Linked DNA regions of Homo sapiens. The protein of the gene in region 2 interacts with the protein of the main gene of each other region in a biochemical or structural test. Each region holds a gene or a part of one and is shown on either strand. Other genes may lie near its edges. The genes, in order: TXNL1 and PSMD14.

Region 1 (3,826 bases), on a different chromosome or scaffold from region 2:
ACTCTTTTATCAGTTAAGACATCATTTTTTATTAAAGATTACTTTGTTGGATATCTAAAAATATAGTTAGGGGAACTTTCTATCCTAGTTTAGCCTTGTAAAATTTCATGACATGATATAATTTTGAATTATTTTGTTAAAAGAAAGTGTGACAGTTGAGATACATGAAATTATTCCATTAAAATTATATTTTTACTATCCCGAAGTATCATTTAAGCAAACTTACTCGTTTGAAGTCATTCATATTTGTTGCCTGGACTGGAGTACCAATAAAAGTAAAATATGAAATTCTTGTTGTTTCCTCTTCACCTTGATTCGACTGAACAAATATCTACCAAAAAAAAGTTTGCATTTATAATTACAATCCTTCTTCACAAACATGCTTTAAGTTTAATCAATTTCCTTAAATTAATAACATAAATATTCTCCATTCTTTGTAAAAATTAATCTAGGCTGGGTGCAGTGGCTCACGTCTGTAATCCCAGCACTTTGGGAGGCTGAGGTGGGCAGATCACCTGAGGTCAGGAGTTCGAGACCAGCCTGGCCACCGTGGCAAAACCCCATCTCTACTAAAAACACAAAAAAATTAACCAGGTGTGGTGACTGGCACCTGTAATCCTAGCTACTCGGGAGGCTGGGGCAGGAGAATCGCTTGAATCCAGGAGGTGGAGGTTGCAGTGAGCTGAGATCGTGCCACTGCACTCCAGCCCGGGCAACAAGAGCAAAACTCTGGCTCAAAAAAAAAAAAAAAATTAATCAAAATTATATAACATTAAGACTAGTACTCCTATAGGATAGGACTACTAATTATAGGGCTGTTTGCCCTGCTATTCTCACTTTCTCCAGAGATGTCATGGCAAGAGACCCATATATATAAGTTCATGGTAACTTGGTGTGATAGTATGGCAGAGTCACAATTAAATTCTCTCTCTATATGTATTTTTTGACATGGAGTCTCACTCTGTTGCCCAGGCTGGAGTGCAATGGCACGATCTCGACTCACTGCAACCTCCGCCTCCCAGGTTCAAACGATTCTCCAGCCTCAGCCTCCTGAGTAGCCCACCAGCACACCCGGCTAATTTTTTTTTTTTTTTTTTTAAGAGATGGAGTCTTGCTCTGTTGCCCAGGCTGGGGTGCAGTGGTGCCATCTCAGCTCACTGCAACCTCCACCTCTCAGGTTCAAGCAAGTCTCCTGCCTCAGCCTCCTGAGGAGGGGGGACTACAGGCACATGCTGCCACGCCCGGCTAATCTTTTTTTTTTTTTTTTTTTTTTTAAATTTAGTAGAGACAGGGTTTCACTGTGTTGCCCAGGGTGGTCTCGAACTTCTGAGCTCAGGCAATCCTCCTGCCTCAGCCTCCCAAAGTGCTGGGATTACAGGTGTGAGCCACCGCGCCCAGCAATTAAATTCTTTATAGAGAATGTTGAAAGGGTATTAAGAGTTACAATTACAATGGGACAGACTATCATTGGAAATTTTATTAAAATCATAGTTTTTCACTGAGGAAAATCTCTAAAGTGATATTCTTTCTGATATTCCTGTATCCATTCTATTTCCTAGAATATTAAAAGAAAAAATAGTATTGGGAATCAGCTCCTAAAACAATACTATGTGCCTCATTTTTTTTTTAAGCTTGACTCTATATTTAATAACTCCCCTCAGCACGATAAAAACTAAAAGTTTTACTCATTGATCCTTTGTCATACATTGGATTTTTGAAATTTGCTCCATTTCTAAAAACACAATATTCTAGGTGCTGTCTACTTTAAAATATTGCACCTATCTCTTTTTTGAGACAAGGTCTCATTATGTTACCTAGGCTGGTCCTGAACTCTTTAGTGCAAGTGATGCCCCTGCCTAAGCCTCCCAAGTAGCTGGGACTACCAGCGTACTCCCATGACCAGTTAAAAACTGCCTCTCGTGATTTAAACAACATACTTCTTTCATTCTGAGATGCCACTCATTCGTCAGTTTTTATTGTTTTCATAGGCAGCCATATGTTATTTCAAGAAAATATTTGATAATGAGTATACTAAGTTTAATATAACAATTTTCTTTGATTTCATTTGGGTAGGATATTTCTAATACTTAAAACTCAACTTGATTATAATTTTTTTTTTTTTGTCACCCAGACTGGAGTGTAATGACACAACTGCAGCTCACTGAAGCCTCAATCTCCCAGGCTCAAGTGGTCCCTCCAGAGTAGCTGGGACTACAGGCGCATCACCATGCCCAGCTAGTTCTTGTATTTTTTTGTAGAGATGGGGTTTCACCATGTTGCCCAGGCTGGTCTCAAAATCATGGGCTCGAGCAATCTGCCCATCTTGGCCTCCCAAAATGCTGGGATTACAGGAGTGAGCCACAACACCCAGCCAATTATAATTCTTCATACTACTACTATGTATATTCTGTGAAACTCTCAAAAACATTCTTAAATGAACACATACTTTAGCATTCTTCTAATTTACAAAAATAGAATTATTCCATCACAACAAACAAGCTGTACCAGTTTGGCATGACATTCTCAGTGGCTCTGTGCTGGTTCCTACTTTCTTTTTCTAAGTATTCTGCTATTCTTTTCTAACTGTCCTACCCATTCCTCTAAATGACTGTAGGTGAGAAGTGTGAGCTGGGTTTCAATGCTAAATTTTTTAAAAGCAATTAATAACTGCTAAAAATTAGCTGATTCTTGAGAGTGGCACTTTAATAATGACATCTAAAATACATCACTTAAAATCACCTCAAGCACTAGTCAATCTTCAGAAAGGCTGGGTGTAGTGGCTGAAGCCTATAAACCCAGCACTTTGGGAGGCTGAGGTGGGAGGACTGCTTGAGCCCAGGAGTTTGAGACCAGCCTGGGCCACACAGGGAGAGACTTCACCTCTACAAAAATAAAAAATTAGCTGGGTGAGGTGGCACGTGCCTGCGGTTGCAACTGCTCTGGAGGCTGAGGGAGAATCACCTGAGCCCAGTAGATCAGGGCTATACTGAACCAAGGTCGTGCCACTGTACTCCAGCCTGGACAACAAAGCAAGAACCTGCCTCAAAGGAAGAAAAAATTCAGATATACCTTAGGTCATCTTATAAAATGTAGTATTATCTTTTTAAAAGTCATTTTTAAGCCAGGTGCAGTGGTGCATGCCTGTAATCCCAGCTTCTCAGGAGGCTGAGGCGGGAAGATTATTTGAGCCCAAGAGTTCAAGTCAGCCCGGGCAACACAGCGAGACTCCATCTCAAAAAAAAATAAATAAATAAAAAGTCATTTTTACTAAGATCATGACCACCACACTTAAAAACTCCATATTCAAGAAAAGTAAATAAGATTTTACAAACACATCACTACTATACCAGGTATAAAGAATAAAGCACAAATATCTTCAGTTTTAGTATAAAGTTGTAGAATAAACTTCCAGCAAAACTTACCATATACATATAAAATAACTGACAAAACCCCACAAATATTCAAAAATCAATCTGTCCTTCCTCTTTAGGGTACATAAATTAAAAAGAAGAAAATTTATCCCATTAAACATTTTACTCATTTCAAACTGAGTGAATAAATACCACTTTAAAGAATCACTTAGACTTACCTAGGATACTGAAAATAGTATTGTTACTCACAAACCTATTAAATACATATGAACGAAATACTACTTACAGTTACACTGTTAACATTCTGAAACTTAACATAACGAAGTGGAACAATGCCATCTTCTTTAATATCATCCTCTGTCAGTTCCAGAGCTTGAGTTGGTTCACTTCTTTCTGCCTCTTCAAAATCCATAGATCGGGGTAGGTTGATAAAAATTTTTACATATTTAGGGCCC
Region 2 (3,826 bases):
ATTCTTTTATATTATCATTGGAAATTTAATTAATTAATTTTGGCATAGAAAATATATATACAGTTAAAAAAATTTAAAGTACAAAGTCATTTAGCAAAAACTCTCCCTTCCTCTTTTGCCTTCTGCAACTCAGTTCTCCACTCTAGAGGGAACCACAAAACACATTTTGTTTCTTTTCAGTTATTCTATTTATATTCAAAAAGCTTCATTTTAGAACGTGATTTAAAGGATATCAGTTACCACCGTATTTTCAGTTTATCAATATAAAATAAATTAAGGCAAACAAATTTGTCTTTAGATCCAAGCACACCTTTTTAAGGAGCATGAAAACTTTTAAAAACTTATCAGGAACCCATGAATAGCTTATATATAATCCGTAAGCCGTGTGTTTTATAATGCACCTGCTTTTCCACAGCAGTGAGTGCATAGAGGTAAAATCATAAGTCAGTTGGTCTTGTGTAGTTCTACATGAACCCAAAAAGGACATGGCCGGTTGACTTATGATTTGGGAGGAAGGCACTGGGGGCACACAGCAGGTGAGTAAGTGAAATTGAAAGACTACTTGAGGATATCATTTGATTTAAACTTACCTTTGTTTTGTTATTGTTATACCTGCTGATCTTTCATGCTGTCTGTGTTAGTTTTAATGCTTTTATCTATATAATGTAATTGAAAATCAAGTAGATTGTGCCTTCAGACACCAGTTAATATTTCATTAGTACAGTTAGTCTCAAAAATATAGGGCCTAGTATCTGTGAGTCCATTAACTGGCTTCTGTATGTATTGGCTACAGCAGTTACTAGCTTTATGACCACCATGTAGGGTTGTGCAAGTAGTGAGTGCATCGCGCAAATGTGCTTGGATGAGGGAGCTTCCAGCTCAAGCTCCACTCTCTACGCCAGACTATGTCTGCTTAGAGGACTGAGCACCTTTTTCTAATTCTCTACCAGGCTGATTCACCTCCTAATGTACACGAATATGAGCACAGATTAAAGGAAGCCCTGATCATTTCTACTTTTTGATCTGTACAGTATAGCATTTTTATGCACTAAAATTTAATTCATTGCTTCTGATGATTATTGAAATGAGTAAGGATTTAATATACACTCTTGGTACTTTACAATCAGTCACTGCTCCCTATGGAATTTCATAGCTCACTTTTATAACAGACATTGGTAAAATAAGAATCTATTGTTAAAGTACTCATCTAAAATATTTTAATACTCATTGGAGTGATTTTTGCTAGCAAAGCTTAAAAATTAACATAATGCTTTGTTTCATCCTGATCCTTAAAGTAAATAGACTTAATCCAAGAATTTCCTGACATGTATTGTGGCATAGTATGTTAGAAAGAACATAGGCTATGGAATCAGAATGACCTAGGTTCAGATCCCCATCTAGCCTTTTACTAGCTAGAAACTTGGACAAATTAATATTTGTGTCTTATTTTCTTTCTTTTTTGTTGTTTTTTTTTTTTTTTTTTTTTTTAGAGATGGGGTATTGCTATGTTGTCCAGGCTGGTCTTGAACTCTTGGGCTTAAGTGATTCTCCTGCCTCAGCCTCCCAGAGTGCTGGGATTACAGGCTTGAGCCACTGAGCCCGACCCTGCATTTTATTTTCATCTGTCAAAATACAAATTGAATTGCCCTACCTTACAGTACTATGAAGATTAGAAGATGTAATGTGTAAAGCAGATACTAGCTGCTCATTAAATGTTCTCTTCTTTACCCCTTCTTCCTCTACCTCAGTGACATCTTAAGACCTACATTGTAAAAGTCTATTAGTTAGAGAAGTGGTGGTTATTTTGGTTAGTTTTTCTCTTTAGATTCCTGAGGGTTAACCCCAAAGTCCTTTTTGTTTTTATACTTGTTAAAAATATCCCTAAAGGTTTATTTCTGACTTTCATGTTTTTCTAGGCTGCCAGAGGATCCTTTAGGTCCACCAGAGTACTGTTGAACCTCATTTGAACACTTGATGTTGTCAGAGTTAGATATGGGGGCAGTTGTGAATTGATTTCAGGACATCCAGGATTATTGTTTCTTAATAAAGCCATGCTATTAGCTTAAGATTTTATTATGATTGGCCTGTTCACCTTGGAGACAGAGTGAGGTGAAAAAAATTCTGGTTGGTGAGATTGCATGTCACTGGATAAGAGCATGAGCTAGACAGACCCAGTAAAGACCAAAATCCACATAGTTAATTTGGAGACATGCATAACATAATTATTTGAATCAATCAAAACTGAATTAGGAAAAGGGGAATTCCAGATTAATGTGGGTAAAGAAACAGCTGTGTTATTGTGGCTTTTTAGGCTTTTCATTTGAAATACCCATGAGCCCCCTAGATATCATAAAGTTAGATTTAATAAATTATGAATGATTTATAAACTTAGCTTATGATAAGATCAAACCTTATCTCTGACTGAGCAAGGCTACTGAAACTGCTTAATTTGTGCTCCTCCATATCATGCTTTGAAGAATGTGTAACCCGTTCCTCTAAACCTTAGTTTTAAACTTGTAGCTAAGAAGAATACTTTAATTTCATCTTAATTTACTTGAAATAAAATGCCTTTATTAGAGGATGGTACAGGTATTATGTAAGAATATATCAACAGTTTCAAACATTTTTATTAGGTGAAAAATATTAATTTGTCCTTTTTAAAATCATTTATCTATATAGGCATTAATTCATGGACTAAACAGACATTATTACTCCATTACTATTAACTATCGGAAAAATGAACTGGAACAGAAGGTAAGTTTAAATTTTTATCTTATAGGAGGAAAAAAATCTTTTTCAAACCATTTAAACTATTACCTGGTATGTGATTTAAATTCGAATTTTTGACCTCTTTCAGTGTTTCCAAATATTATTCCATTATTGATGAATTGCAGCACAAAATAAGGGAATATTTTATTGGACTATTTAAAGACACATTTCACCTTATTGGTAGGTGCTGAAGTGGGAGAGGAAGTAGGAAATAAATCAAACGTTCCACTTTGGTTTTATGATAAGTCATAAAAATATTTCTTTTAGTTCTGTGATTTTTCTGATTAACTTATCTTCTTCAATAAAAAGGCCTTTTGTAATTAAATTAGTAATATATTGCTCTGTAAATTTGAGAGGAATAACTTAAATTGCAGTTGTGTAGTGCTTTTTGTTTGTTTGTTTGTTTGTTTTAAGAGATAGTAGGGTCTTGCTCTGTCTCCCAGACTAGAGTGCAATGGTGTGATCATGGCACACTGCAGCCTTGAACTTTTAGGCCCAAGGGATCCTCACTCTACAGCCTCCCGAGTAGCTGGGACTATAGGCATGCACCACCACACCTGGCTATTTTTTGGGTGGTGGGTGGGAGGTAGAAACGGAGTCTTGCTTTGTTGCTCAGGTTGGGCTTGAACTCCTGTGCTCAAGTGATCCTCTCACCTCAGCCTTCTAAAGTGCTGCAATCATTAGCATGAGCCATTGCACCCAGCCTAGTGCTTTTAGAAAACATACCATGTTTACTCTAAAGAAAACTAAGCTGAGTCAAAGGGAAACAGTTTTAGGGTTTTCAGATAATTTGTACTAGATTCTGATCCCATTTTATACCAGTTTTCAAGTTTGATTAGTTTTTAACATTACCTGACGTTTTGATGAATTAGCATTCTCATTTGTTTCTATTTTAGGATTATTTCTAGTACAGTTTTTCTCTCAACTAATGCCAAGTATTTAAATCTGCCTGTTGTTTTTTGATATTACAATCTGAACCAGTTTCCCCCCTTTACTATTACAATTAGTCATCCACCTAATTAGTTTCTTGTATTTCTCTCTGGGAAAGTTAAAAGCA

What was found.
Region 1: the proteins of PSMD14 (region 2) and TXNL1 form a complex in vitro, tested with the Homo sapiens proteins (one study listed by BioGRID).

Annotation. Positions count from the first base shown.
Region 1 is NC_000018.10:56,610,767-56,614,592, forward strand, and holds part of TXNL1 (thioredoxin-like protein 1), read right to left. Parts: coding exon 3,658-3,826; intron 332-3,657; coding exon 227-331; intron 1-226. UniProt on the Homo sapiens protein: Active thioredoxin with a redox potential of about -250 mV.
Region 2 is NC_000002.12:161,388,425-161,392,250, forward strand, and holds part of PSMD14 (26S proteasome non-ATPase regulatory subunit 14), read left to right. Parts: intron 1-2,679; coding exon 2,680-2,754; intron 2,755-3,826. UniProt on the Homo sapiens protein: Component of the 26S proteasome, a multiprotein complex involved in the ATP-dependent degradation of ubiquitinated proteins.